Homo sapiens: one gene and its partners. The protein of the gene in region 1 purifies or fractionates together with the protein of each later gene. This does not show direct contact. Each region holds a gene or a part of one and is shown in the gene's direction. Other genes may lie near its edges. The genes, in order: ITPRID2, PIGR, FKBP15 and VPS33B.

Region 1 (7,078 bases):
GGCTTTAAACATGTAATTCTATTGCTTTAACATATATACAATAACCAGAAATACTAAAATCAGAAATACTTTAATAATTAATAATGGTCTCAAAAATAGAGGAATATATCAATAACCCAATCTAAGTCAGACTAACCAGCATTCCTCATAGTTCAATTACATGATTTGTAAATAAATCTCTGAAAATTTTTGAAGTGTTTACTCTTATTTATTAATATTTTTTCTTTTATTCTCTTTTATGCTATTGCAAATTATTTCACTGGTATCCCTGGAAATGTTAATGGATACATTGAGGGGCCAAAAAGATTTACTGTTGAAATAAATTTTATAACTATTGGGTTTAAAAAATTAAAGTTTTAAAAAACAAGTTTTGAAGACGTCTCAAGTCTTTAACATTCATTGTGACTGGGCTGGGGTGGAGGAAGAGGAGGGGGTATAATATGCAGTGTTTTCCATTCTTATTTTATATAGAATTTTTTTCTCCAGGCAATACTATCAAAATATAAAATGCTACTTTGTTCATTTAACCTGATATTCTACTTAACCTTATACCTCTGAGGCCCCTTTTGTCTTAACAAAAGATGAGAATTTGAAGAAATAACTGCAACTCTACCACTCTCTAATCAGATTCTAAATAATTAAGATTTTGATGCACAAAATACAATTTTTGAGCATATAAATATTATTAAAGAAACAATACCATAACTACAACCAAAATGGCTTAGCCTACCCAATAGTAAATCTTGTTTTGCAATTTTAAATATCTAATTAAACCAAGAACAATGTTTCCCTTATGATTCATGCTTTCCCATATAAAACTGCCTGATTTAACCAAAGTATACGTTTTCTATCTTTGCCTGAACTTATGCCAATTTTAAAATACAGCTGCATAAGCATGATGATAGATGCCATTTGCTAATATGAGAATTATTCCCCCATATGAAATTGATTTATTTTTTGCTTTCTGCAATATAATCATTCTAATAGCTATACTGAGCACCTACATTATTTCTTGTGAGATTCACATCAATTTGGGAAGGTAGTTATCATGATTGCTATTTCAAAGATGAGAAAAGTCATGGCCTTGGGATATTAGCTGTCTTGCCTTATACCATACAGCTAGAAAAAGAGGGAAACATTTCAAACTTCAGTCTAACACCAAAGACCACGTTGCTTCCACTATGTCATGCTGGATGGAATTATCCACATTTAATATACATTTCTTTCTTTTTCCACCTTGCAAACATCATTGATTCAGACAATACTCTTTTTTTTTTTTTTTTTTGAGACAGCGTTTCACTCTTTTTGCCCAGGCTGGAGTGCAATGGCACAATCTCAGCTCACCGCAACCTCTGCCTCCTGGGTTCAAGCTATTCTCCTGCCTTAGCCTCCCAAGTTGGTGGAATTACAGGCATTCGCCACCATGCATGGCTAATTTTGTATTTTTAGTAGAGACAGGGTTTCTCCATGTTGGTCAGGCTGGTCTCAAACTCCTGACCTCAGGTGATCTGCCCCGCCTCAGCCTCCCAAAGTGCTGGGATTACAGGTGTGAGCCACCATGCCTGGCCCAGACAATACTCTTTATGTAGAGCTTCGCAATGTATATTTGCAGTTGGTGTACAAGATAGTACTTGTTTGGGAGAAAATCCTCGAAGAAGCAAACATGCAGACTTTCTTCATGTGTAGTATTCATTATCGAATAAATGAAATACCTTGGGCATTTTAAAACATCTGTAAAAGTTGAGAATACAATGAAAAAACCTTACTTTTCAAGGCAATAGCATACTACTTCAAGGATTTCCTTCTCTATTACTTCTATACCCTCAACATATTTCATTAAAAAATGCCATGTAGAAGAAAGCACACATTTGTGCTACCGGAAACTGAATAATGTATATATTCTACTTTGTTACCTGCTGGTAATTTTTCCCCCTTATTACTTGACTCTGGTTGTTTGATTTTTTTTTAAACTATGGTTAATTATTGCCTTTCACAAGAATTCTTTGTTGTTGTCATCTGAAAGTGTATTTAAACAACTGCAAACCTAAATAAAATATAAGCATTATAGAAATAACATGAAGCAAATTTTAAAATAATCAATTTAGGTGTCTCTTTGAAGAACACAGAAAACAGAAACTACCTCAAGAAGACCCATTATCCCTTGTGGGATCAGCATTTAAAAGTGTAAGGGGTGCAAGAATACTGAAGAATGTTCTATCATCTCTCACAATTTACAATCTGGCTAGTAAGCCAAACATACCTTCCAGGGCCAGTCATATTATTTACTCTACAATCCAGTCCCCAAATAAATGACATAGACATGCTGTTGTATATCAGATCCCTGTGGGAGGGGTGTGATCAGGAGTGGTGGAATGGTGGAGTCAAAAAGTTCTGGCTTAGCTAGATTTTGAAAGTCATGAAGGTAGTGGACAGAAAGAACAGGAATGAATTAATTAGCAAAGACAGAGTAGGCAACAGCACTTAGATATGATAGAATTGAAGCTGGGAGCAGCAGAGGAACAGGGTGGATACGTAAGAACCCTGGATAAAACTTTGAAGGCAGCATATTTTGTGGCACTTGACCAGCCCTTTCAATGCTTCTTCTTAGGTACCTTCTTTATTCATTCTCTTTTTCATCTTCCACACAGGCAGCGAGACTCTGACCTATTTTGGAGAGCCATTAAACTGTTAGCTGCATCCTACTACAGGACCCTTGAAGGCTGAGAAAGTCTTATAGGTTCAAAGAAAAGATTTTCTAGTAGTGAAATTTCAAGCCATAGAGATATTAATATCACTGTTCTAACTCCCCTGACATTTGGCAGTACATAGATGAGACTCAGGAGAATATTATGATGGTTCTGGAAAGCTAGTCTGGATTTTGGATTTGATCTTGGGGATATTAGTAAACCATTAGAAGATGTCTTGGAATTGTAAATCTAGAGCAATGCGCTAGAAAGGAGATAGGAAAGAATGAAGGCAGGAAAATCAGTGTGCTATTTTAGTAGTCTATGACTTATGTGTAAATGCCTGGACAAAAACTAGGCACTATTTCATCTCCAGAGCATTCTTCATTCCAAATTCTCCAAAAGTTATGGTTTCCTGTAGCTATCAATGACAATGCACTTAATTACCTTGTAATTCGAATGCTTCCATTAGGAATTTTACTATGCTCTGGATTTTAATTTCAAATGAAAAATAATTCCTTCCTTAAAATATTTTGTCTACGCAAAATATTCTTTTCAATCACGTTAAGATTTTAAAAAGTGTTCTAACTTGTTCTTCAGAGCATAGCCAAGTACAATAAAATATTGGAAGCCTTACTTATATGTATAGTTCAGATGTAACATTTAGGGGAACAATGCTGCTTGATAGGTCTGTCACATTGTGTCTGGTTTTGGATAGAATTTGAGTATTTTTGCTAATGAGAATTTAAACATAACAAAACGGAATGCCAAAGCTGGCTTTAAAAAGTTTTGAACCCTGACATCATTTGTTTCTTGTATCATGCTGTCTCACCAAAATCCAAGCAACTATCTCCACATTGTCCCAATTGTTTCCTCTATTCTCCCTCACCAAAGTCCAACTTCAATGTGAAATTTCCAGATTAAATATCCTTTCACAATTCATTTTCATTCATAACATAAACACGATAAATAACTTTAAGTATGAAAGTAGCACTCCAGGAAGCTTAGTCTTTTGCAGTTTTTACATTTTGGCAACACCAATCAAGCACCTCTTTCCGTCCTTACCCCAATTCCTTGGACACTAAAGAGTCTATATTCAGGCGACTCTTTCAAGTGTATGTTTCAGGGTGCCCAAGCAGACACTTGTTTTCTCGCGGGGGATGTTTTGTGAGACTTGGCCTCCCCACTTACGTTCTATTTTTAGGTGAGGGAGGAGGAGGAGGAGAGGAGGAAAGATTATTAACAAACTAATCTTGCCCATTCCGCGGGCAGTAGTCGGGGGCTGGCCTGCTCCGCGTCGCGCCGGGCGCGCCCCGCCCTACCGCGCCCCGCGCGGCCCCGGCCGGAAGGGGGCGTGGGCCGCCGCCGAGGGAAGGCGCGCAGACGCGCAGCGGCCGGCCTGCTCCGGGCGCGTCAGGCAGGGGGTGGGGAGCAGGGGCCGGGCGGGCGCTCGGCTCCCAGCCGCGCTCCCTCGGGCCACTAGCGCTCCCGCGCGCGCCCGGCCGCCTTCATGTGAAGCGCCGGCCCTCCGCCCCTTCCCTCCCCTTCCTTCCCTCCCTCCCTCCCTGTCCCCTCCTCCTCCTCCTCCTCCTCCGGCGCCCGCTTCAGCTCCCCGGGGCCCCCTGCCCGGCCGGGCGCTGACAGCAAGGGCGGGGGTCCCTGCCGCCGCCTTGTCTCGCGCAGGGTCCGGCTGGGGTAGCGGAGCCCCCAGTGCGGCCATGGACCGGCCCCTGTCGTCGTCGGCGGAGGCGGAGGAGGAACTGGAGTGGCAAGTGGCGAGTCGCAGGAGGAAGGCCTGGGCCAAGTGCCGCAGCTCCTGGCAAGCGTCGGAGACGGAGGATCTGTCCACAGAAGCGACGACGCAGGACGAGGAGGAGGACGAGGAGGAGGACCTCCCCGGCGCGCAGCTGCCGGCAGCGGGGGGAAGAGGTCGGTGCTCCCGGCCGGGCTCCGGGGGGAGGCTGGTGGGCTGGGGAGAGTCTCGTGCGCCCTGGGCGCCTGCCACGAGTTCTGGGAGAGCCTCGGGCACGGTAGGCCGAGGGGAGAGGGGACACTTCCGACCTTCAAACGCGCGCGCTGAACGAGGCGCCCCCAGCGTCAACACAGACAACTGGGTGCCATCCGATTTCCCTGCCAAGGGACACTGAGACGTGTCGCTTAGGCTGCATTTGCCGTGGTAGATTTTCCTACTTGGGAGGGTCCAGGGTGACTCCGCCGTCGTAGTGCTCCTGGGTGGTAACGTGCTGTCCCCTCTCTCTACCCCCAGGAAACGTGCCCAACGAGAAGATCGCGATATGGCTCAAGGACTGCCGGTGAGTGCTCCCTGGTCCGCCCGCGTCCCGGGGGAGATCCGTGCGGACGGGACGCCGGAGCAGAGCCACTCGGGCCGCGTCCCTGTGGGTCCCGCGACCGTTGTAAGCTACAAACCGGAAAGTGAGCCGGCGGATAGCTTCCTCCTCTAAGCGATTAGAAATGGAAGTGCTGTGACCGCTGATTATTTGGTGACCGTGTTGACTTTACAGTTAGGACTTGAGCTACTCACGCATCGTGTTAGCATCAGAGATCAGAAATCCAGAACAGATAATCATGCCATATTTGTTCTGTTTTTATTTGAAAGAATTCTCACATCTCGAACAGGATATTTTGTTTTGCTTTAGTTTTGGCATCTGTACAACTGGCACGGAATCATTTTCCTTTCAAATGTGTTTTAGACGAGTTTAATTTACCTAACTACACTAAATGGGCTTTAATTTTGTTTCTGTTTGGGGAGCTATTAAAACTAGCTAACTTTGTACTTATAGTTTACTTCTTGAACATGGAATTGTCAGATGGCACTGGAATTCTCAGGGAATAGAACTTTTAAAAGCATTCAGACTGCATAAATCTGTTTAATTACATGCTTTGGCAACTGGTACAAAAATGTTTGATAAAATACAGAGGAGATGAATCATGTTGCACGTAAATCTGACTACAGCAAAATGTACTTGTTTCTTATTCCACTTTGCTAGTTGTAAAATCAGGAATGTAGCCTTTAAACTTTTGTTGGTGTTTGCTTTCGAGCATATTTTTGCTTTCTCAATTTAGATTTTCTTAATATTTTGTTCAAATATTAGAGTTAGGGTAGTTTGTTTTGTTTTGTTGTGGAAAGTGATTCATATGCCAGTTTGCCTCCTCTAAAGACAGACAAGATATTGGCTACCATGATATTAATGCCTTGTTTTGATGAATCGACTGGAACCTTATTGAACACTCTTTATTACAGAACTCGTACCCTTTATTGGAAGTGTCATAGACCCTTCTGAAATATGATGACATATATGGAATAACTTCTGTTTAAAGATGCACAGAGGCAAATACACTGCTTGAAGTCCTTGGACCCCAGATTTACAATCTAGCTGTAAATCAATCTCCCAGTTTTCAGATAAGCCTTAGATATTAGATACTTCACTCAAAGTATGGATCAAGAAATTGTATTAATGTGCTATTGGTTCATTTAATTGTTAAATACTAAAATAGTCTATAATGTAAAAGCTTGAAATTTTGAATGTACATGTTCAAGACCTTTTGGGTGAGATCTGATAAAACTAGTATCTTTCAGGTTTCCACTTAGAAATGTGTTTGAGAAGTTGTTTTGTAACTTTTACTTAAGTCCTTTAAAGCCTCCAATCTGACTCTTTATTTAAATACAGTCCTAAGTACAGTATTGGCTTACTTTAGGTTTCTTAAAATAGGCTTAGCATTACAAATACATTTATAATGTTTTATTGTTTAAATTCAAGTGCATATTCAAAAGAATTTTAAAAATTAAGAACAAGAGAAGAATCACACTATAGTTTAATGACATATAGGATTTAAGATTGTATAAGAGATCCTATCAATTAGACAGTAAATAAGTGCATCTTTTTTGAGACAAATGCAGTAGGCAAATGTTGACATTCACCAGGGCACAGTCAATCCCTGACAATTTCAGAAGTTTTGTTGCCAATACTGATTTATGTGGGCAGATTCTGTAGTCTGCTGCTCCTTCTCTCATGGATTACCTTCTTGTTCCTACAGTTGCACCTATTCTACACAAGAGTGGCATTCATTTGTATCCAGGAAAGCTAGAACAAGTAGTCTTTTAATCTTGGCTATATTATCACAGATTCGACTTAGGATATGTTGCATCTGTATTTTTGTTTTAAATAACAACTCAAGTTCCTTCTCAGAGTTGGGCATCTATGTATTTTGTTTATTATGTACAAATGACCTGAAGACAGCATTTTACCCACTTGATAAGTTCTCAAATAGTCTTTGTTTCTTAGTGCCGTCCATATCCTGAATAAAGATACCGTGTTTTCTTTCCTTAAAGGGAGTCTTTATTTTGATAACCATTTGTGGGGGGACTAAGTAAA
Region 2 (7,299 bases), on another chromosome or scaffold:
TAGCTGGGACTACAGGGGTGTGCCACCACCCTGGCTAATTTTTTTGTTTTTGTAGAGACTGGGTCTTGCTATGTGGCCCAGGCTAGTCTCCAACTCCTGACCCCAAGTGATCCTCCCACCTTGGCCTCCCAAAGTGCTGGGACTAGAGGTGTGAACCACTGAACCTGGCCTATACTTAATCTTTATAACATACCTATACAGTAAGTATAATTTTCCCCAGAGACATTAAATAATTTGTTCAAGGTTCCCTGGCTGGCAGGTGGTAAGGCTTGGATGTGAACCCAGGGCGTCGAGGTCCAGAGCCCCTGCTCTTTTCCCAAGGCTACACAGGCTCTCTATGCTTGCTACCTCCTGGCTTGTGTTGTTCCTTGACAGTATTGCATGTGAGTGATGACTTCTCAATTGGACTACTTGCCCTTGTGGAACAGGGGTGCACTCTCCTGCATGTCTCAAATCTCCCTGGACCTTGAGCTTGTCATGGTTGGTAGGCCGAGAAATAACCACCATCCCTCTTCCCCAAGGTTTGTCTATGTCTCAATCTCTGGAGCCCAGAAGTGTGACCTTATTTGGAAAAGAGTCTTTGTAGATGTGATGAAGTTCAGGATCTTGAGATGAGGACATCATCTTGGATTAGCTGGGTGGGCCCTAAATACCATCCATATAACAGAGAAACAGAGAGTTATTTGAGACATACACAGAAGCCAATGTGACTATGAAGGCAGAGGTTGGAGTGACACAGCTACGTGCCAAAGAACACCAAAGAATGTCAGCAGCAACCAGAAGCTAGAAGAGGCAAGCAACGGATTATCGTCTAGAGCCTGGAGGGTGGCCCTGCTGGCACCTTGATTTCAGGCTTCTGGTCTCCAGAACAGAAAGAGCATACATTTCTGTTTTCTTAAGCCACTAAAGTTGTGTTAATTTGTTATAGCAGCTGTCAGAAACTAATACGGTGCTCAACCAAAACACAGAATCCTAGAACTGAAAGAGCCTTGGGAACAATTTGGCACTGTCCTCTGATGGAACAAACAATCCTGCAGACCTACAGGATGAAGTGATCTGGCAAAGGTCACTCGGCAATTAGAGGCAGAATCAGGAACAAAACAAAGGTGTTCCACAGTGACTTATGCTGAGTCCCAGAGTCAGGAAAGTCCAGTGAGAAGCTGTTCTTCTGCTGGTATATTTTCTTGTATGATTACTTTAAAAGAAGCAGGGAGGGTTGAGCAGATGAAGTGTTGTAAGTTTGGAAAGTATAATCACTGCTGTTATCATCATTATTATTGATTTGGGCAATGGACTCTCTTGGCCTGTCCCTCCTCCCCCAGGGCTGAGAAATAGTACTATTTTAGGGCCACTGGGTTCCAGATGGGGAAACCACAGTGCGAGAGGGGAAGCAAGTGAGTCCAATCACACCACCGGCGTGTGGCTGAGCCCAGAATAGGACGTAGGATTTTTGACTCCCTGCCTCTTCCCAGGGCTCTACTTCTCATTTTCCCCTTTCTGTAAACTGGATCAGTAGGATCAGTGGGCTCCAGGTATGTGGGGTGTGTGTGTGTGTATGTGTATGTGTGTGTGTCTGACATGGGTCAGCTAAGACAGTTTTGGAGACTATTGAAAACATGCAGCAGGACATGATCTAGTAAATTACCCACCATCATGAAATAGCAAAGCAGGGAAGGAAATCTGCAACCTGTCCTCCACGCCCACCAAGGCAGCATGAGAAGAAATGATTTAATGAGTGTTCTCCCCTTCCTCCCTGCAAGCCTTTGCTCGTCAAATTTCTGCACTAGTGTTCTGTGAACCTGCCTTGACTTCTACTCCAGCCTGGACAACTGGACACAACTTATTTCTTGCTTTGGGAAGGAAGAAACAAACCCTACAAATATTTTGACTATTGAGTTCAAATGGAGAGAGGTATAAATCGGGAATCCTTTGAAAGGAGCTATAATCTGACAGAACCAGGCTTGTCTCATCTCTGCACCTGCATATCTTGTCTCCCCTCGCATCCTCCTGCTAGACATTAACCCCAGAACTGGGGAGGAGAAAGACTGCTGAAGAGTAAAAAGGAGAGCTTAGTTACTGATGTGTCTTGGTGCCCTCCCACCCACCACCATGGGGCAGAGTCCAGGCTACAGTAGGGGAGAGGGGATTAACAATGATAGAGATATCCAGGTGGGCTTGAAAACTCCAGATTGAGGGGCCCTCACCTTCGCCCATCCTGTAGAGAACTTTGGTGGTCCACAGTCTTGCTGATATCCATTGTACCCCCAATTATATGGGAACACTGGCACACAGGAGGTTACAAGAGTGTTGGGGGAAAATGTGACTCTGCTGCACAGGATCTCCCAAAGGCCTCAGGAGTCTGTGATCAGCCAAACTCACCCTGCACCCACAAGGTGGGCAAGGAGAGGCTGAGGGCCTGGAAGACCCACCCCAGGGAGCTCAGTGTATGGACTAGGAGGGCACAGTGTGGACCACAGAACCCTCAGGATGAGCAGGGACAAAGCCCACTGACCAAGCAGGGGAAGTCACATCTCAGTAGACAAAACTATTTCCTTCTGGAGCCCAAGGCCAGCACAGCATCGTGACAAAGCAAGACCAAAATAATAATGGGCCACCCCTTTTCACTGCCTCAGCAGTAACATTGACCACCCCCTCACCCAAGACCGCTCTCTCCAGACTGGACCCCAGGGGAGAGAAGGGAGACAAAAAGGAAGGGAACTCCATAATGAGGCTAAATTTTAAATCTGGAGTGAAGTGACTGAGAGATCACTGAATTGGGCTGAGCTTGCCTAGAAGTGACTAGGTAACTTGTTTTCTTTTATCAGTCAGATTATGGGTTTAGGGTTTGAAATTAAGCTACATCTGGAAGCCATCATCCTCATCAAACTAACACAGGAACAGAAAACCAAACACCACATGTTCTCACTCATAAATGGGAGCTGAACAATGAGAACACACGGACACAGGGAGGGGAACATTACACATCCGGGCCTGTTGGGGGGGGTGGGGGGAGGGAGAGCATTAGAACTAATAGCTAATGCATGTGGGGCTTAATACCTAGGTGGTGGGTTGACGGGTGCAGGAAACCATCATGGCACACGTTTACCTGTGTCACAAACCTGCACGTTCTGCACATGTAATCCTGGAACCTAAAACAAAATAAAAAAAGAAAATCTAAGTTTGCAAACCACAAAAAAAGAGAGAAATTAAGCTACATAAAGAAATTATGGGGTTTTTTTGCTTGCCATTGAAATCTGTGATTGTGTGTTAACACCCACAAGTGAGCCAGTGGTTAGCTAAAATAAGACCCAGGGCTCTGGCTGCCTTGTGTTTCTCCAGGGCTCTATTTCTCTATTTTTCCTTCCCCTTCTGGTGTTTGGCCTATAGGACTCTGTAGGGAGAGCCTGGGTCAGCCCTGCACAGGTAGGATGGGCAGCATTTCTGTGGGGGTTTGCAGTGAGGGGTCGGGGGGCCATACACGTGTGTGTTGGGGAGTGGGCTTCACTTTTGTCACAGGACTGCCACGATCATTTGGGGAACACCTGGGAGTCCCAACCAGGTCATGTTTTGGCATGGACTAACAGATAGGGAAGGAGGTGCTACTTCAGCTCAGCAGGTCAGCACCGTCCTTGCTATGGAGCCGAGCCCGGGTCCTAACAAGACTCTGAGGTCAGCCATGTTCAGGGGAGCCCAGAAGCAGCGAGTCTTTCATGACTCTGGGGAGTGAAACAGGAAGGGCCACAGTCCTGCCAGTTCCTGGAGCTCTGGGACTGGTAAAAGGGGCTTGGCAGGAGGTGTATAAGGGGCATTTTTGTCCAGGCTAAGTAACCTAGGGAGTCGGAGGGGATTCCAGAGCAACTGGGGATATGAGACCAAGGACTACGACAGCCACTCCTGCCACCTGTGCCCCATCAGATGATGTCAACTTCAAATCAAGCATTGGGCCAGGTATTTTAGAGCTAATACCGGGCTATATCCTCTACCTGTAGATTTGGTATTACCATCCCTCTTTTCCAGATGAAAAGAAATAGGAAGGTGACTTGCCAAAGGTCTTGCAGCTAGAAAGCGACAGAACAGCATCTTCACGCTTGACATTCTGTCCCTCATCCTGAAGCTGCAACGATGGAGGATTCCCAAGTAACAGAGTCTCCCCAAGGTCAAAGGAAACCAAATGGAGCCAGCCAGGAAGGCCAAAATGAAAGGAAAGCAAGGGATCTGTGAGAGTCACATGACCCTGGCTGGCCACGGTGCCTGTGGGAGAGTGGCCCTTTAAGAGCCCAGGTGTGGGTCAAACACTGAGCAGAGTTTCAGTTTTGGCAGCAGCGTCCAGTGCCCTGCCAGTAGCTCCTAGAGAGGCAGGGGTTACCAACTGGCCAGCAGGCTGTGTCCCTGAAGTCAGATCAACGGGAGAGAAGGAAGTGGCTAAAAGTAAGTGTTACTGCTCTGGGATCCCCAGACGGGATGCTATCTGGAAAGGGCTCGGGACGATGGCTCAGGTAACCCCCTCCATTCCCAACTCCCAGTCTCCTAGATAGTGGGGTGACAAGGACAAGGAGGCAGACTGTGTGACTGTGTGTGGCTGGGGAGTAAGCGTGCATATCGCAGTGGGACGAGTAGGGATGCACGTGTGTGGAAGCCCCCCATCCTTTTCTGAGAAATATCAGCAGGTGGGAAGGGACCTCTGTGGTCAGCATATGTAATTCTACTCTTTCAGCTTGGTCTGTGCCTGGATTTCCTAACTCCTCATAGTTGATTAACTGTGTGGCCTTAGACAAGCCACCTAACCTCTCTGATCCTCAGTTTCTTAATCTGTAAAACAAAGATAGAAATAACACCTATCATTCAGGGTCAATGTGGGTTCAAATGAGAAAACACAGGTGAAATAGCTTTGTAACCTCTAGAATGAAATAGGAATTGTTTCATATTTTTCAGTTTAGTTTAATTAATCAAGGATTTATTGAACACCAACAGACCTGGAATTAGATAGTGCGCATAAAGTATGGCACCTAGCAAGTCCTCTTCCATTCTTTGAGGTTTCCCACTTGTGGCTTTCTGGCAAAGGCATGTTCAGCTCCTTTTTTCTGGGCTTCCAAGAACCTCTGAAATCCTTTGCAATTCCACCTCGCTTTGCTCTAGCAGATTCCTGCCATGGGAGACATAAATGTGTGTCATCGCATCATCCTGCCCTTCCTAGAGGTAGAAAAAAAGAGGTCCTCACGGGATCACTGAGTGAGGTGGAGCTGAGCCCCACAGGCAGCATGATCAACTCCTGCTGTTCCTCCTGGCTCTGCAGCCAGCAGATCTCAGACATGGGCTTCCCCTCCCTTTGCCCATCCTGACAGCAGCCCAAGCCAGCAGTGGGACCGTCCGGCACAAGGGCAGCAGCGGGTCAAGCTCCATCCCTGACCCCCAGTTCCCTTTGTGCAATTGCCACAGTGCCTGGGGCCATTGAAGCTGCTCCTATTTTGTGCCATCACTTTCCCCCTTCACTAGGGGAATTATAGATCCTTTAACATCTGGAGAGGAGATGCCAATTTCAGGGGTTTAGGTAGAAGGCAGCTGTCTGGTGCCTGGACATAGGTCTTCCCAGAGCCAGATCTGGAATTCTCTCTCCATCCTTGTCCCGCCCCTGGATGTGCTAAAGTAGCAGAAAGAACACTGAGCCAGGAGTCAGGAAAGCAACTCTCTCTGCTTATCTCCTAGTGCCGCTAGACCTCTGTGGCTTTAGGTGATAAAAAATGGGGTCACACAGGCTTCCATTTAGTAAACCCACTTGCCCTGGGCTTTCACACCTTCGTCTCATTCTCCCTTGATACCAACGAGGAGGTAGGCAGGGTTGGTTTTGTGATGTCATTCCCTAGTTGAGGAAACCAAGACACCGTGAGTCTATGTGAGTGGTGTGAAGTCACCAGCAAGTTTGAACGATGAGGTTTTGGTACAGCCATTTTGATATGGTCATGAGGACATTTTGATGTCACCTAAAAAGCAAACTATCCAACTTAAAAAAAAATACCTATGCATTGTGCTCAGCAGAGACCTTCATCTATGTCTTGCCCTCTCTCTGGAGGGGCTGGGGCTGGAGTCCCAATGTCACTGGCATCGACACAGTATGGTGGAGTGGAAAGAGGCTTTGGCGTCAACATGCCTGGTTATACCCATGGTTATGTAACATATCCTACACATGGTAGGTGCTAAATAAATAGCAGCTAATATTTTCCAGGAAGAAATTTCTCTGTTGGCACCTACCTCTGGGTCCAGGTGTCTCTTCATTTTTTAATTTTTTATTTTTTTGAGATGGAATCTTGCCCTGTCACCCAGGCTGGAATGCAGTGGCGTGATCTTGGCTTACTGCAACCTCCACCTCCTGGGTTCCAGCGATTCTCCTACCTCAGCCTCCTGAGTAGCTGGGATTACAGACCCATGCCACCACACCCAGCTAACTTTTGCACTTTTAGTACAGATGGGGTTTTACCATGTTGGCCAGGCTGGTCTTGAACTCCTGACCTCATGATCCACCCACCTCAGCCTCCCAAGGTGCTGGGATTACAGGCGTGAGCCACTACGCCCGGCCCCAGGTGTCTCCTTATAAGAACTGCCTTTTCCGTGAAAGGCAGAGAGGAAAGAACTGAACAAATTCTCAGTTCGCTAAGATTGAATATCCTGCTTCTTCCTCTCTCCACTGCTTCCTCTCAATAGGAAGACCCTCTGAGGTAAAGCAGAGTGGCTAAGGGCCTATGCTCTTGATCTAGAATCCCATCTAAGTCACTTACCAACTGTGCAACCTTGGGCAAATGTCTCACCTCTCTGTGCCTCAATTATCTCACTCATGAAATGGGGTTGCCCATTTTGTCCCATCTCCTATGGTGGCTGTAAAAATGGAACACATTAACACATGTAAAGCACCTGGAAAGGACTCAGCGTACGTTCTTCTAGCCTAGCCCATAGTGCTTGTCTCCTCTCTTATCCACATGAGTCCAACCTAAGTAGCTCACTCTCCATCTCTCTATCTTCAAAGGATGTCCAGCAAGCAGACTTCTACTCTCATACCAAGTCCAGGGGACCTTTCTTCCTCTGAAAAAGAGGGAAACCTGAGATTAGATGGACAAAGGTTTGGACTCCACACCATGAGAGATGAAGTGCAGTCACTTTAACTGAACAGGAGCTAGTTAAATACATTTTATAAAAAGAAAAACTATCCTTCAGCACAGCTTACACTCCTGCCCCAATCCACAATTGTGGGGACATATGTTACACATATGTTGGGATACTAACTTAGTAAACTGAAAATGATCTAGCACA
Region 3 (7,025 bases), on another chromosome or scaffold:
GACAACTTTTTTTACAGTAGTGGTATCACGTTTAATGTTTTTTAGGAAAATGTCATGGACTTGTACTACATAAGAAGGAGATCTTTCTCACTCGTAGTTAACTGCTGCATAGTAGCCTACTATGAGGCTGTACCATAATTTGTTTAATGATTTGCCTATCGATGGATATTTATGTTTTTATTTTTTCATTATTTTAAGCACTGCTTCTATGGACATTCTCATATTATATAACTGTTTTTGCAAATTTGTTTGAGCATTCCTACGTGATGGATTGCATGAGTAAGAATCATGGGATCAAAGGGAAGGCTACATATTTGAATTTTTATAAATATTACCAGGTTATCCTCAAAGAATAGTGCTTACACTTTCAGCAGTATGTGAGTGAGCCCATTTGTCACATTCTTCCCCACTCTACATATATCACTTTTTCTAATCTTCATTAGTCTGACAGGTGAAATATGTTATCTTGTTTTAATGTGTATTTTTATTAGTAGTAAAGCTTTCATATATTTAATACCTATTTGTATTTCTTATGTACATTCTCTCTTTAGTGTCCTTTATCCTTTTTCCTATTATTAGTTTGATTTGTAAACCCTTTTAAGGGTATCAATCCTTTGTCAGTCATAGATGTTGTAAATATTTTTCTAGCTTGCTGTCTTTTAACTTTATTTATAGTATCTTTTGTTGGTTAAAATTTTAATATCAGGAAATACTAAGTGAACAAAGTGAGAACATTTCTATCTTTTTGTCTGTTCTGGAATCGTTTAAATATGAAAATAATAAACTGCTCCTGAGGCTTCAGTAAATCTCATTAGGTAAAGCTGTTTTGGCCCAGTGCCTTTTAAGAGGGTAAATCTTGGTCTGCAATTGCATTTTTTTCCAGGATTTTTTCCATTTTATTTATTTATTTTTAACCAATTCCTTCTAACCTCTTGGCTGTTTTCAGTTTGTCATTACTATAGATACTACTACAGTGACCATCCTTGTAACACACTCTTTATGACTATGACTTATTGAATCCTTAATTACAATTTGTGGAATTTCTGGATACGTATGTTTTTAAAGGCTTTTCACAGGATTACTATCCAAAGAGAGTATATCCATTCGTTTTCTTACTATCAGGGTATGAGAATGTCTGATTTCCTGTACCTTTATTAAAGTTAGGATGTTCCCTAGCTCTTTTTTTTTTTTTTTTTTTTTTTTTTTTTTTTTTTTTCTGAGGCGGAGTCTCGCTCTGTCGCCCAGGATGGAGTGCAGTGGCGGGATCTCGGCTCACTGCAAGCTCCGCCTCCCGGGTTCATGCCATTCTCCTGCCTCAGCCTCCCAAGTAGCTGGGACTACAGGCGCCCGCCACTACGCCCGGCTAATTTTTTGTATTTTTTAGTAGAGACGGGGTTTCACCGTTTTAGCCGGGATGGTCTCGATCTCCTGACCTCGTGATCCGCCCGCCTCGGCCTCCCAATTTCCCTAGCTCTTAATAGAGGGGTAGATACAGCTCTTCTTGTTTTCCTTCTCCTGTCACCATTTTCCTCACCCAGTAGCCAAGAATGTTAAATATTTAGGGGAAAATTCAACTAAAAAATGGAGTTTTCAGAAATGGAGTAAGGATTCCACAAGGTAATTAACTGCCACCGCCATCATCCCTCTTTATTCTCTGTTAACAAGCTAGAGCTGATGATGGTTCTCTTGTTCCTAAGAACCTCTCAGAAAGGAAAAAGAAGTCAGCTCAAGAGCGTTCTCAGGCCGAGGAGGAGATAGATGAAATTCGCAAGTCATACCAGGAGGAATTGGACAAACTTCGACAGCTCTTGAAAAAGACTCGAGTGTCCACAGACCAAGCAGCTGCAGAGCAGGTAATGGGAAACTGAAGCACTTTGAAAATAGAGGGAAGGTGTGAAGGACTCAGAGAGAAAAGCTTCTGGTTTCTTCCTTACCCTTTAGGATGACATTTCTCATAGCTGATACTCTCACTTTGGAGAAAGGTAGAAAAAGTAATCCAGATATGTGCAGGAGAGCCAGGAATCAAATGGAGAATCTTCTTTCTTTTTTTAAAGCTTAGTTAATATTTAATTACATAAGTAAAAATGAAAAATAGTTTCCTTACAAAAAAAATTCCAAACATGGTAAGGCCAAAACCATCAACCATTGGACACCATCCTTCAGGCACATTATCATCCTTGAAAAGAAGGGATTGATTTAGGTCATCAGGAAGGGAACCAGGGATAGTGGCAGGACACAGCTGGATCTCTAGTCTGTGCAACAGCAACCTTTCTCATTATAAGCTTAAAATTTATATGCATACATTTGTTTAATTAGAGTGCATTGGTGCCCTCAATTTGACCACCTCTGGGAATTTTGGTGAAAAAAAGTTTCTGAACCTATAAAGTTTAGGGTTCAGACCCTGAAAAGCAGTGATCACATGGCCCTGCCCTCCAGGGACCTATCTAGATAGGCACACTTTTGTCTGCTTGGAGTACCTTTTGGAGTCCTGACAACCAATGACATCTTAAGAAGTGCATTTATTTTAAAAGTAATGAGTCTTTTAAACAGTTTCCCAGTTAAATCTGGGCTGTTAGCTTATTCTTTTGCTTTTTGAAAGATGGGTTTCCCTAGGTGCAATGGAATCTCACTCCCCCACCCCCAAGGATGATATGGTCATTACTTTCTCTTGGCAGCTGTCTTTAGTACAGGCTGAGCTACAGACCCAGTGGGAAGCAAAATGTGAACATTTGTTGGCCTCCGCCAAGGATGAGCACCTGCAGCAGTACCAGGAGGTGTGCGCACAGAGAGATGCCTACCAGCAGAAGCTGGTACAACTTCAGGAAAAGGTACATATTTTTCTTGAGTCAGACAGTTTAGGCAGCCCAGTTAATTTGAGGCAAGCAGGCTGTTTGAGTCCTGTCGATCCTTCTAAGCCTGAAAGTTATTAATATCTAGAAGACAAAACCACACTTGTTTAGCTTGTCAGTTATCTTTCACATACTTATGTGGGGTGATAGGTCAGTGACCTGGAAAAAGAGAAAACAGCACTAGTGTTCCGGAACATGTTTCCCATTATTATTGGATCCTTCATTTATTAAGCAAATATTTATTGAGAGTCAGTTGTATTCCATCCAGTGTGTTAAAGGAAGTGCATACAAGGAACCCTTCCCTCATGTATCTCACAGTCAAGAAAGGGAGACAAAGAAACAAAGATAGGTGTTAAGTGCTATGGGGCCCAGAAGAGGAAGTACCCAGGAGAGCTGGGAAGGTTTCCCAAAGGTGGTGACATTTGAGCAGAGCCAAGAAGGACAAATAGCTTTGGTAAGGCAGCAAAGGAGGCAGAACATCCTGGGCAAAGGCACTGAGATAGGATGGAGGCTGGGGTGTGGTGGGATCATCAGGCCTGAAAAAGAGAGATGGGACATGGCTTAGGGTCATGGTGTGAAAGTCCATATTCGAGGTCAGTTTCTTTCCTTAAAGTGTCCAGTTGAAAACTTTTGGCTCAGAGATCTTGGAGGCAATCTTGCAGATGAATGACAAATGGGTTGCTGTTAATGCTGAATGTTTATGTCTAAATGACTAGTTATTACCTACCCTCCTGCTCTTTTTTCATTATATTTTTTACCTGATTGGGAACAAGGCAAGCAACCTTCTTGGGAAAGAGAAAGTGAAGTTTTGCGTTGAAGTCGAATGATGAGGAGATAGAACTCTCTGAGGCAGAGGGTCGTGGGTGGGGGCTGAGGGAGTGGACACCAGCAGACCTAGGCGAGGTTAAGACTTGATGTTTAGAGATTCTGGAGAGGATGTGGAGAAATAGGAACGCTTTTACACTGTTGGTGGGAGTGTAAATTAGTTCAACCATTGTGGAAGACAGTGTGGCGATTCCTTAAGGATCTAGAACTAGAATTACCATTTGACCCAGCAATCCCATTACTGGTTATATACCTAAAGGATTATAAATCATGCTACTATAAAGACACATGCACATGTATGTTTATTGTGGCACTATTCACAATAGCAAAGACTTGGAACCAACCCAAATGTCCATCAGTGATAGACTGGATTAAGAAAATGTGGCACATATACACCATGGAATACTATGCAGCCATAAAAAAGGATGAGTTCATGTCCTTTGCAGGGACATGGTTGAAGCTGGAAACCATCACTCCCAGCAAACTATCACAAGGACAGAAAACCAAACACTGCATGTTCTCACTCATAGGTGGGAATTGATCAGTGAGAACACTTGGACACAGGGCGGGGAACATCACACACCGGGGCCTGTCGGGGGTTGGGGGACGGGGGGAGGGATAGCATTAGGAGAAATACCTAATGTAAATGATGAGTTGATGGGTGCAGCACACCAACATGGCACATGTATACCTATGCATCAAACCTGCACATTGTGCACATGTGCCCTAGAACTTAAAGTATAATAATAATAAAAAAAAAGAATTTGAAATAAAATTGTCTTTTTATTATATGCAAAAAAAAAAAAAAGAGACTTGATGTTTGGGTGGTTCTCCTCCCCTTGGGTTTTCTGACCTTCACCTGGTTCCTGAGGCCACAGCCACAGTCTGTTTGTTTTGCAGTGTTTAGCCCTCCAGGCCCAAATCACAGCTCTCACCAAGCAAAATGAACAGCACATCAAGGAACTAGAGAAGAACAAGTCCCAGATGTCTGGGGTTGAAGCTGCTGCATCTGACCCCTCAGAGAAGGTGAGCTGGTATTTCAAATGAGAAGCAAGCCATTTATATCAAGCATTCAGAAAGAACATGGCCAGTATGTTGTGTTAATAGCTCTTTTTCTAACTTTAGTGATGTTTTACTTGTCTGATGACTTTAAAATGAACCAGATTTGGTGTTTGTTTGTTTGAGACGGAGTCTCACTTTGTCACCAGGCTAGAGTGCAGTGATGTGATCTTGGCTCACTGCAACCTCCGCCTCCCAGGTTCAAGCGATTCTCCTGCCGCAGCCGCCTGAGTAGCTGGGACTACAGGCACGCGCCACCACACCCAGCTAATTTTTGTATTTTTAGTAGAGACAGGGTTTCACCATGTTGGCCAGGATGGTCTCGGTCTCTTGACCTTGTGATCCGCCTGCCTCAGCCTCCCAAAGTGCTGGGATTACAGGCATGAGCCACCATGCCCGGCCCAGATTTGGTTCTTGAGTTTAAGGAGCTTACAGCCTAGTGGGAAAACAAACAAATACATACTTACATATTAAGTGGCAAACCCAAAAGAACCCTATCTTTCTGAGGTTTTGACAGGTATAGGAAGGGCCTCTAACCACAGAAGAAGAATGGGGCTTGGGGAGTGTGCCCAGCATCCACTGGCCTCTGACCCTTAGAGCCTATGGCAGCTCCTAGTGGTGCTCACAGTGGGAGGGGGACATCAAGAAATGGTCTTTAAGCAGTCTTGGGCACACAGACCACAGCTTGCCTGCCCTTGATAGGTAACTCTCATGACTAGCCCTTCTGTCAAAGTGCTGCTCATTATTTAATATCATCCTCTCCACAGTGACAGCCTTCAGTGTCTCTGCTTATGACCAGCAGTATCCCAGTGTAGAGATCTAAGATGGCTTCATTTTGGCCTTCCATACACCTCTCTGGAATTTAATGCATCCTTTAGTGACTTGATTTTGACAGCATGTGTTTTGATGTTCACACAGGTCAAGAAGATCATGAACCAGGTGTTCCAGTCCTTACGGAGAGAGTTTGAGCTGGAGGAATCTTACAATGGCAGGACCATTCTGGGAACCATCATGAATACGATCAAGGTACAGCCAGCCAGCTGTCATTTGTTTCATCGTATTGGGCATTTTGTTGCTTAAGTACCTTCTAAGGGATCATGAATAAAAAATTGTTCAAAGCTGGCACAGTGGCTTATGCTTGTAATCCCAGCATTTTGGGAGGCCAAGGTGGGAGGACTGCTTGAGGCCAGGAGCTTGAGACCAGCTTGGGCAACATAATGAGACTTTGTCTCTACTAAAATTAAAAATTTAAAAATTAGCCGGGTATGGTGGCACGTGCCTGTAGTCCCAGCTACTTGGGAGGCTGAGGCAGGAGAATCACTTGAGCCCAGGAGTTCAAGACTACAGTGAGCCATGATTGCCCCCAACTGCACTCCAGCCTGGATAACAGAGCAAGACCCTGTCTCCAAAGAAAAAAAAAAGAAAATTATTCAGGACTGTTCCTCAGTAATTAGGATGCCTGGAGTGACTTGACAGATATAGTCAGCCTCTTTTAACAGGAAAGAAGCAAAGTCATTTAAACTACATGACCAGTAGTGTTAATAAGAATTAGGAGTGGCTACTGTGTTCCTTTCAGTGACCATCTCTTCCTTGGCTTTTGAATAGATGGTGACTCTTCAGCTGTTAAACCAACAGGAGCAAGAGAAGGAAGAGAGCAGCAGTGAAGAAGAAGAAGAAAAAGCAGAAGAGCGGCCACGAAGACCTTCCCAGGAGCAGTCAGCCTCAGCCAGTTCTGGGCAGCCTCAAGCACCCCTGAATAGGGAGAGGCCAGAGTCCCCCATGGTGCCCTCAGAGCAGGTGGTCGAGGAAGCTGTCCCGTTGCCTCCTCAGGCCCTCACCACTTCCCAGGATGGACACAGAAGGAAAGGGGACTCAGAAGCTGAGGCACTCTCAGAGATAAAAGATGGTTCCCTTCCACCCGAACTGTCTTGCATCCCATCCCACAGAGTTCTAGGGCCCCCGACTTCAATTCCACCTGAGCCCCTAGGCCCTGTATCCATGGACTCTGAGTGTGAGGAGTCACTTGCTGCCAGCCCAATGGCAGCTAAGCCCGACAACCCATCAGGAAAGGTCTGTGTCAGGGAAGTAGCACCAGATGGCCCACTACAAGAAAGCTCCACAAGACTGTCCCTGACTTCAGACCCCGAGGAGGGGGACCCACTGGCCTTAGGGCCTGAAAGCCCAGGAGAGCCTCAGCCTCCACAGCTCAAGAAAGATGATGTCACTAGCTCCACCGGTCCCCACAAGGAGCTGTCAAGCACAGAGGCAGGTTCCACAGTTGCAGGAGCAGCC
Region 4 (7,025 bases), on another chromosome or scaffold:
ATTTATTCCTTTTCAATCTTTCTAAGAAAATTCTAGAGAAAATAGAGGCAGTAACTAAGGACTGAAGCCTCTGAAACCAGGCTGTCTGGATAAAATCCACCCTTGAGGCCTTATTACCTGTGTGGTCTTGGGTTAGGTACTGAGCTGCTCCGTGTCTCGGTTTTCTCATCTGGAAGATAGAGTTGATAATAGTACTTATCTTTTAATTTAAGTGAGATGACTTTGAGTCTCTGTTGAAATAAGAAATCAAGTGGGACCCTAGGCTTATATTGTTTTCTCCTTCTGTAAAAGGAATAAGAGGAAAGAGCCAGTGACCTTCCTTTGAATGTCACCTGAACATTGATAGCACAATCTTACAAATATTTATCTTAGGATAATATGCTTAGGAATACAAACGTGAAGTATTATTACCAGGGCAAGAAATTATTGAGTAGGACAACCACTCAGAATTATAGGTACTTTTGAATGTTACTAAAGGAGTCATGGCAATAATTTCTAGTTCTTGGACTCTTACAAACCTTTTTTTTTTTTTTCTTTTCAAATTATGCTTCCAAGGACAGCTTTGGTGTTTTGTCTTGTCTTGTTTTGTTTTGTTTTGTTTTGTTTTGTTTTTGGAGACAGTGCATTGCTCTGTCACCCAGACTGGAGTGCAGTGCCGCAATCTCGACTCACTGCAACCTCCGCCTCCCAGGTTCAAGCAATTCTCCTGCCTCAGCTTCCCGAGTAGCTGGGACTACAGATGTGCACCACCGTGCGTGGCTAATTTTTTATATTTTTAAAAGAGGTGGGGTTTTGCCATATTGCCCAAGCTGGTCTCAAATTCCTGAGCTCAGGCAATCTGCCCACCTCTGCCTCCCAGAGTGCTAGGATTACAGGCATGAGCCACTGCGCCTGGCCAAGGACAGATTTGTATTAACAGGGAATAATCCTACAAGTTAAAATAATCCTACAAGCCTCTCTATTACACAGAAAAACAAAATAGTTATTTTTATGAGTGTTCTCCACTTAACACCTTATCTAATCAAATTCTTTGACCTAATTTTATATTAGGAGGCATCTCTCTCTCTTCTTTGAGACTCCTTTGTTAATTATGAAGATTGGCAGTTTTCAGACCTGGCTCTGGAATTCCATTACTTAGCATTAAAAGTTAAAAGCAGGCCTGAAGATTTCAGTTTTCCTGGCAGAAATGAGTGAGGGAGGAATAGGATTCTTCTGTGTAACAGTAAAATAAGGAGCACGTAGCATTGATCTACATCTCACAGAGCTAGTATGAAGATGAAGACAAGTGATTCCTGTAAAACACTAAGAACAATGCCTAAACCATTTTAAGGGCTTACAACATTAGCTGTTAATAATGTCAACTCATTATCAGATGTGAGTGCCCTCAGCATTCTTTCTCATTACTTTAAAATATTCACCCTTTCCCCACTTACCTCAAAGGAGGAAGAGATCGTGGCCTTTTCCCTCCTAAGATGAGCTGTTCCATGCCAGTTCTTGGCCCCATTTCTGCTTTCCTTCTCCATTATCTTGCTTTACCAGGTAGACTTTCTCTTCTGCCTTCACCCATGTCTATGCCTTCTAAACAATGTCTCCCATTTCATCTCTTTTCCCTTTCAGAGCTCCCCCTTCTTTCAGGGCCAGGCTTCTGTGAAGAATGTTCTATTGTCACTGCTTCTGCTTCCTCATCTCCACCTTCATCGTTTCATCTAGTCTCCCTCAGGTCTCCGTTGTCAAATCCACTGGTGTCTATTTAATGTTAATCCTACTTAACTTCCCTGGCATTTGACACTGTTGCCCACCCTTCCTTGCAACTCTCACCTTTCCTGCCTTGACTGTTGCTGTTTTCTCCTGCCCCTGCTTCTCTGAGTATTCTTTCTCAGTCTTCCCTGCCAGGTCCTGTACTCTGGCCCCCTTTCATCTTGTGTTCCCTAGAGTCCTGTCCTTAGCTCTCCTCTGCGTGTTCTTTTCTCTTGGACAGACCATCTACTTTATTTATTTATTTGAGACAGGGCCTCACTCTGTTGCCCAGGCTGGAGTGCAGTGGCACAATCTCAGCTCAGTGCAGCCTTGACCTCCTGGGCTCAAGTGATCCTCCCACCTCAGCCTCCTGAGTAACTGGACTACAGGCACACACCACCATGCCCAGCTAATTTTTGCATTGTTTTGTAGAGATGGGGTGTCACTATGTTGCCCAGACTGGTCTAGAACTTCTGGGCTCAAGCGATTCACCTGCCTCGGCCTTCCAAAGTTCTGGGATTATAGGAGTGAGCCAGTGCACCCAGCCACATCATCCACTTTAAATACAGCATATATGCTACTTAATCCCAAGTCCTTGTCTGTGTCTCCCAAGGTCCCGTGGGCATGTCCTAAACAGAACTCACTCTCCCTTGTACAGATCTTTTCCTCCCATCTGCTCCTCCACAATTTCCAGAGCACTTCATGCCATTGCTCTCATCTCTGTCTGTACAACTTACCTTTTGAAGACAGCTGAACTCCTTCTCCTTTGTAAACCTCTTCCATTCTCTCAGGGAGATAAGAAGCAATTTACTCAAACATAAATTAAATGGATGAGAAAGAACTGAAGTGCTGGGCTGAATGATTCTAATGGTTCTTTCTAGATCTTAAGAGTCTGGGTTCTCTTGTCTTTCACTGGGTTCGGCAATTATTGTCCTCATCAGTGACCACAGAGGAACTCCAGAGAAATGGAGAGAACAGAGAAGAAGGTAGTTACTAATCAATTTCCTTTTCTCTTTCAGTTCTATGCGTGTGAGATGGTGCTTGAGGAAGAGGGAATCTATGGAGGTGAGAGGAGATGAATGTGAGTGGAAAGGGAAAGAGAACATACAGAAGAAAAAACTGTTGTTGTTCTCCAACCCCCCCACCCCACCCCCACCACCAGCTCCTTCTTTTCCTGGTCTTATTCCTGTTAGTGTAGCAGGAGGAGAGGTTCCTGAGAATGGGAATGGGAATAGGACCACGAATTAGAACACTACTGGGGGCTGGGCGCAGTGGCTCATGCCTGTAATCCCAGCACTTTGGGAGGCCGAGGGGGTGGATCACCTGAGGTCAGGAGTTTGAGTCCAGCCTGGGCAACATGGTGAAACCCCATCTCTACTAAAAATACAATAATTAGCTGGGCGTGATGGCGCACGCTTGTAATCCCAGCTACTCGGGAGGCTGAGGCAGAAGAATTGCTTGAACCCGGGAGGCAGAGGTTGCAGTGAGCCGAGATCACGCCATTGCACTCCAGCCTGGGCAACAAGAGTGAGACTCAGAGAAAGGAAGGAAGGAAGAAAGAAAGAGAGAGAGAAAGAAAATAAAAGAAAAGAGAGAAAGAGAGAGAGGGAGGGAGGGAAAAGAAAGGATAAGAAAAGAACACTCCTGGGGTAGTATGAAAGGAACACCAGGGCTTAGAGTTGGAAATGACCAGCCACTCTTTTCTCACCTTCCAAGGCTCCCACAGGAAAAACTGGGCCTCCCCTCTGTGTATTCCTCCGCTATTCTCCACACAACCCAAACCTGATCACAGCCCTCCCTGCTGGAAATAGCAGCGGCTCAATATAAAGCCCAGAATCCCCAACATGCCTCCTATCCCTTGCACAGTCTGGCCCCTCCTGTCCCATTAGCCTCATCGTGTGCTGCTTCCTTCTCCTGACTCGCCACCCTCCAGCCAGAGAGACTTTACCCATGCTTTTCCAGGTACCCAGAACGTTCTCCACCCTATAGCTTTTTGCCTTCCCGAGTCTTACCCAAATTCTAAGCTTGATTTTCTCTTCTTGAGGGAAGTCTTTCCTATACCCCCAGTTGTGGTTACATCCCTTTAATATATGTGCTCACAGCTTGCTGTTTGACCTCTTTGGAGCACAACCGTGATTTAATAGTTTGTGTCATAATTTGTCTGGTGTGTCTCCCTCACTAGACTGTAAGCTCCAGAAGGTTGGGAGCATGTCCATTTTGCTCACTGCTGTATCTCTGGTGTTCATACAGTCCTACATGTAGGCAGCTTTCAGTAAATATATGCTGAATAATGAATGAGTGAGCTGGGCGTGGTGGCTCACACCTGTAATCCCAGCACTTTGAGAGGCCAAGGCAGGCAGATCACCAGAGGTCAGAAGTTTGAGACAAGCCTGGCCAACATGGCAAAACCCCGTCTCTGCCAAAAATACAAAAATTAGCTGGGCATGGTGGCGTGCACCTGTAATCCCAGCTACTTGGGAGGCTGAGGCAGGAGAATTGCTTGAACCCAGGAGGCGGAGGTTGCAGTGAGCCGAGACTGCACCATTGCACTCCAGCCTGGATGAAAATTGCTAAACTCCATCTCTAAATAAATAAATAAATAATGAATGAATGAATGTTTTCTCGGCACTTTTGGTCAGCCCTCTAGTAAAAACCCACCACTTATCACATTGTATTACAGGCTGCTGTGGACACATCTCCTTTCCTTATCAGACTGTGAGCTCCTTAAGGGCAGGGACTGTGTCTTATTCTTCTTTGAGCCTCCATTGCTTAATGCAGTACTGGCATGTGGCAGGCACTCATATATTTGTTGCACGCACTCAAATATTTGTGGCGGACCTTCCCTCTTAACGTGGAGCTAAGTACCTTCTGCAGGGAGGCTGATGCTCTCTGTCCCCACAGATGTGAGCTGTGATGAATGGGCCTTCTCTTTGCTGCCTCTTGATGTGGATCTGCTGAGCATGGAACTACCAGAATTTTTCAGGGATTACTTTCTGGTAAATGCAGAGGCCCTTGTGTCTTGGCATCAGGGGATGGGGACAAATGTGGGATGCAGAGGGCTAGAAATACCAATATAACCTTTGTCCAACGCAAGTAATTTATCACAAGTGATAGTGATGTGGTGATTGAGTGCTACAGATTGGTCTCTGTGGGACTTCCTGTGGAGCCAATGAAAACCTTTCAAGCATCCCCCAGGCCCTGCCACCCTGCTCCAGGGCTTCTAGGGCTAGCCACTTTCCAGGTGGTCCTACTGGGTTGATTCATATCTTTGTGGCTTGTGTGGTCCCTGCAGGAAGGAGATCAGCGTTGGATCAACACTGTAGCTCAGGCCTTACACCTTCTCAGCACTCTCTATGGACCCTTTCCAAACTGCTATGGAATTGGCAGGTGCGCCAAGGTAAGAGCACTAGCAGTACTGTTGTCCCAGCAGACGCTGTTTTCCCTGTTCTGTACCCTCCTGGGGTTATCCAAGGGCACCTGTGATATGAGGTGTATTCTTTACTTTGCTTTCATTGTTCTGGAATAGATCCTCAGAGAGGAGAACTTGTGTGGCTAACAGAGAAGCAAAAGCCAGGATCTCCTGGGTAGCATTCCTAAATCTCTTTTTATTTTGGGGACAGAGTAACACATCTTCTCATCAGTAGGAAGAGTGTTGGGGAAAGATAGACACAGACGGGAGTAGATAGGGCCATATTGTGAATAATTAGCTCCTGTCTCGGGGACAAGAGGAAGTATCACGTGGAAAGGGCTGACTTCTGTAGGTATGGGGCTGCAGTAGGGACCTGGACACAAGACTGAGAATGTCTTGGGCCCTGGCAGATGGCATATGAATTGTGGAGGAACCTGGAGGAGGAGGAGGATGGCGAAACCAAGGGCCGAAGGCCAGAGATTGGACATATCTTTCTCTTGGACAGAGGTAAATTATGCCCAGCGTTCCTGTCATCTTTCAGCCCTAGAAGACACGGGAATATGGAAGGCGTGGTGGCAAAGTTAAAATCCTAAAGTTAGGGCTGTGAATCCCAGCTTTGAGGAGCGTGGGTCCTTGGCCCTATGGAAAGTATCAAAGCTGCCCTTGGACATGCTGTGTAGAAGGCTGGGTCAGGGAGAACCTTCATGGTCAGGGATCTCTGTTTCAGATGTGGACTTTGTGACAGCACTTTGCTCCCAAGTGGTTTATGAGGGCCTAGTAGATGACACCTTCCGCATCAAGTGTGGTAAGTGCTATGGTCCTCTGCATCTTGGCAAGATGGACGGGTCATCAGCCTTGGCACCTCCCACGTGGGGCAGGGTTTGTGGGAGAGACCCAGACCCTGAATGAACTGCTGGCTTCCAAATAGTTTGAGGACCTTTATGGCAGTTCAGGGAATGGTAGGAGAAGTCCTCATTGGAGATCCTAATAGCTGTCCCTCTGCTCTCAAAGGGAGTGTCGACTTTGGCCCAGAAGTCACATCCTCTGACAAGAGCCTGAAGGTGCTACTCAATGCCGAGGACAAGGTGAGGGTGTGGGTGCTAGCAATGGGCCCACCTAGGGCCACTGCTTATACCAGGCTGTGGGCCCCCTGCTTATACCAGGCTGTGGGCCCCAGCTCTGAGAGGGGAGGCTGAGTCTATGGGAGAGAGGGTTTCCCCACCAGTTCAGAGCATCTCCTAGAACACGGTGTAGGCATTTGATATGGACTTACAGATCCCAGCTCAGCTTTCTTTGTATTTCTGCCAGAACACCTGAGTACCCTTCCTGTACTGTCATTCTACTGCTAAGTTATGGTTCTGACAGAGTAAGCTGTTCTTGTCTTACTGTCCTCACAGGTGTTTAATGAGATTCGGAACGAGCACTTCTCCAATGTCTTTGGCTTCTTGAGCCAGAAGGCCCGGAACTTGCAGGCCCAGTATGATGTGAGGCTCCAAGCCCTGCTCCTCTGTTTTGTTGCCTCAGTGGCTTCCCAAGGCTGCTGCCCTTGGGCTCCCCTTCTAATACTATGACAGGTTCCCTGTCCTTTCTCATGGATGGATGGCAACTGAGGGAGGGTGGTGGTTTCTCGTGTCTGAGGTTGGGGGGTTCACCTTTGGGAATTTTCCCACAGCGCCGGAGAGGCATGGACATTAAGCAGATGAAGAATTTCGTGTCCCAGGAGCTCAAGGGCCTGAAACAGGAGCACCGCCTGCTGAGTCTCCGTAGGTTTCAGCTTGAGGGGCGTGAGGGGAAGTGACTGTGTCCCTCTGGGGAAAGCTCCAGAGGACCATTACTCCCGAGGAGGAGATCCCTGTTCATCTGATGCATATGGTCTTAC

The links.
Region 2: the proteins of ITPRID2 (region 1) and PIGR purify together in Homo sapiens (affinity purification with mass spectrometry; 3 studies listed by BioGRID and IntAct, with this or other methods). This does not show direct contact.
Region 3: the proteins of ITPRID2 (region 1) and FKBP15 purify together in Homo sapiens (affinity purification with mass spectrometry; 3 studies listed by BioGRID and IntAct, with this or other methods). This does not show direct contact.
Region 4: the proteins of ITPRID2 (region 1) and VPS33B purify together in Homo sapiens (affinity purification with mass spectrometry; 3 studies listed by BioGRID and IntAct, with this or other methods). This does not show direct contact.

Annotation. Positions count from the first base shown.
Region 1 is NC_000002.12:181,887,665-181,894,742, forward strand, and holds the start of ITPRID2 (protein ITPRID2), read left to right. Parts: upstream 1-4,065; 5' UTR 4,066-4,402; coding exon 4,403-4,613; intron 4,614-4,950; coding exon 4,951-4,996; coding exon of another isoform or gene 4,997-5,000; exon of another isoform or gene 5,001-7,034; intron 7,035-7,078.
Region 2 is NC_000001.11:206,943,465-206,950,763, reverse strand, and holds the start of PIGR (polymeric immunoglobulin receptor precursor), read left to right. Parts: upstream 1-4,297; 5' UTR 4,298-4,428; exon of another isoform or gene 4,429-4,496; intron 4,497-7,299.
Region 3 is NC_000009.12:113,169,256-113,176,280, reverse strand, and holds part of FKBP15 (FK506-binding protein 15), read left to right. Parts: intron 1-1,697; coding exon 1,698-1,853; intron 1,854-2,675; coding exon 2,676-2,828; intron 2,829-4,574; coding exon 4,575-4,700; intron 4,701-5,651; coding exon 5,652-5,759; intron 5,760-6,338; coding exon 6,339-7,025. UniProt on the Homo sapiens protein: May be involved in the cytoskeletal organization of neuronal growth cones. Seems to be inactive as a PPIase. Involved in the transport of early endosomes at the level of transition between microfilament-based and microtubule-based movement.
Region 4 is NC_000015.10:91,005,578-91,012,602, reverse strand, and holds part of VPS33B (vacuolar protein sorting-associated protein 33B), read left to right. Parts: exon of another isoform or gene 1-169; intron 170-1,433; exon of another isoform or gene 1,434-2,049; intron 2,050-2,756; coding exon 2,757-2,802; exon of another isoform or gene 2,803-2,812; coding exon of another isoform or gene 2,813-2,818; intron 2,819-3,626; coding exon of another isoform or gene 3,627-3,699; intron 3,700-4,638; coding exon 4,639-4,733; intron 4,734-5,029; coding exon 5,030-5,134; intron 5,135-5,556; coding exon 5,557-5,653; intron 5,654-5,873; coding exon 5,874-5,951; intron 5,952-6,157; coding exon 6,158-6,231; intron 6,232-6,543; coding exon 6,544-6,630; intron 6,631-6,818; coding exon 6,819-6,909; intron 6,910-7,025. UniProt on the Homo sapiens protein: May play a role in vesicle-mediated protein trafficking to lysosomal compartments and in membrane docking/fusion reactions of late endosomes/lysosomes.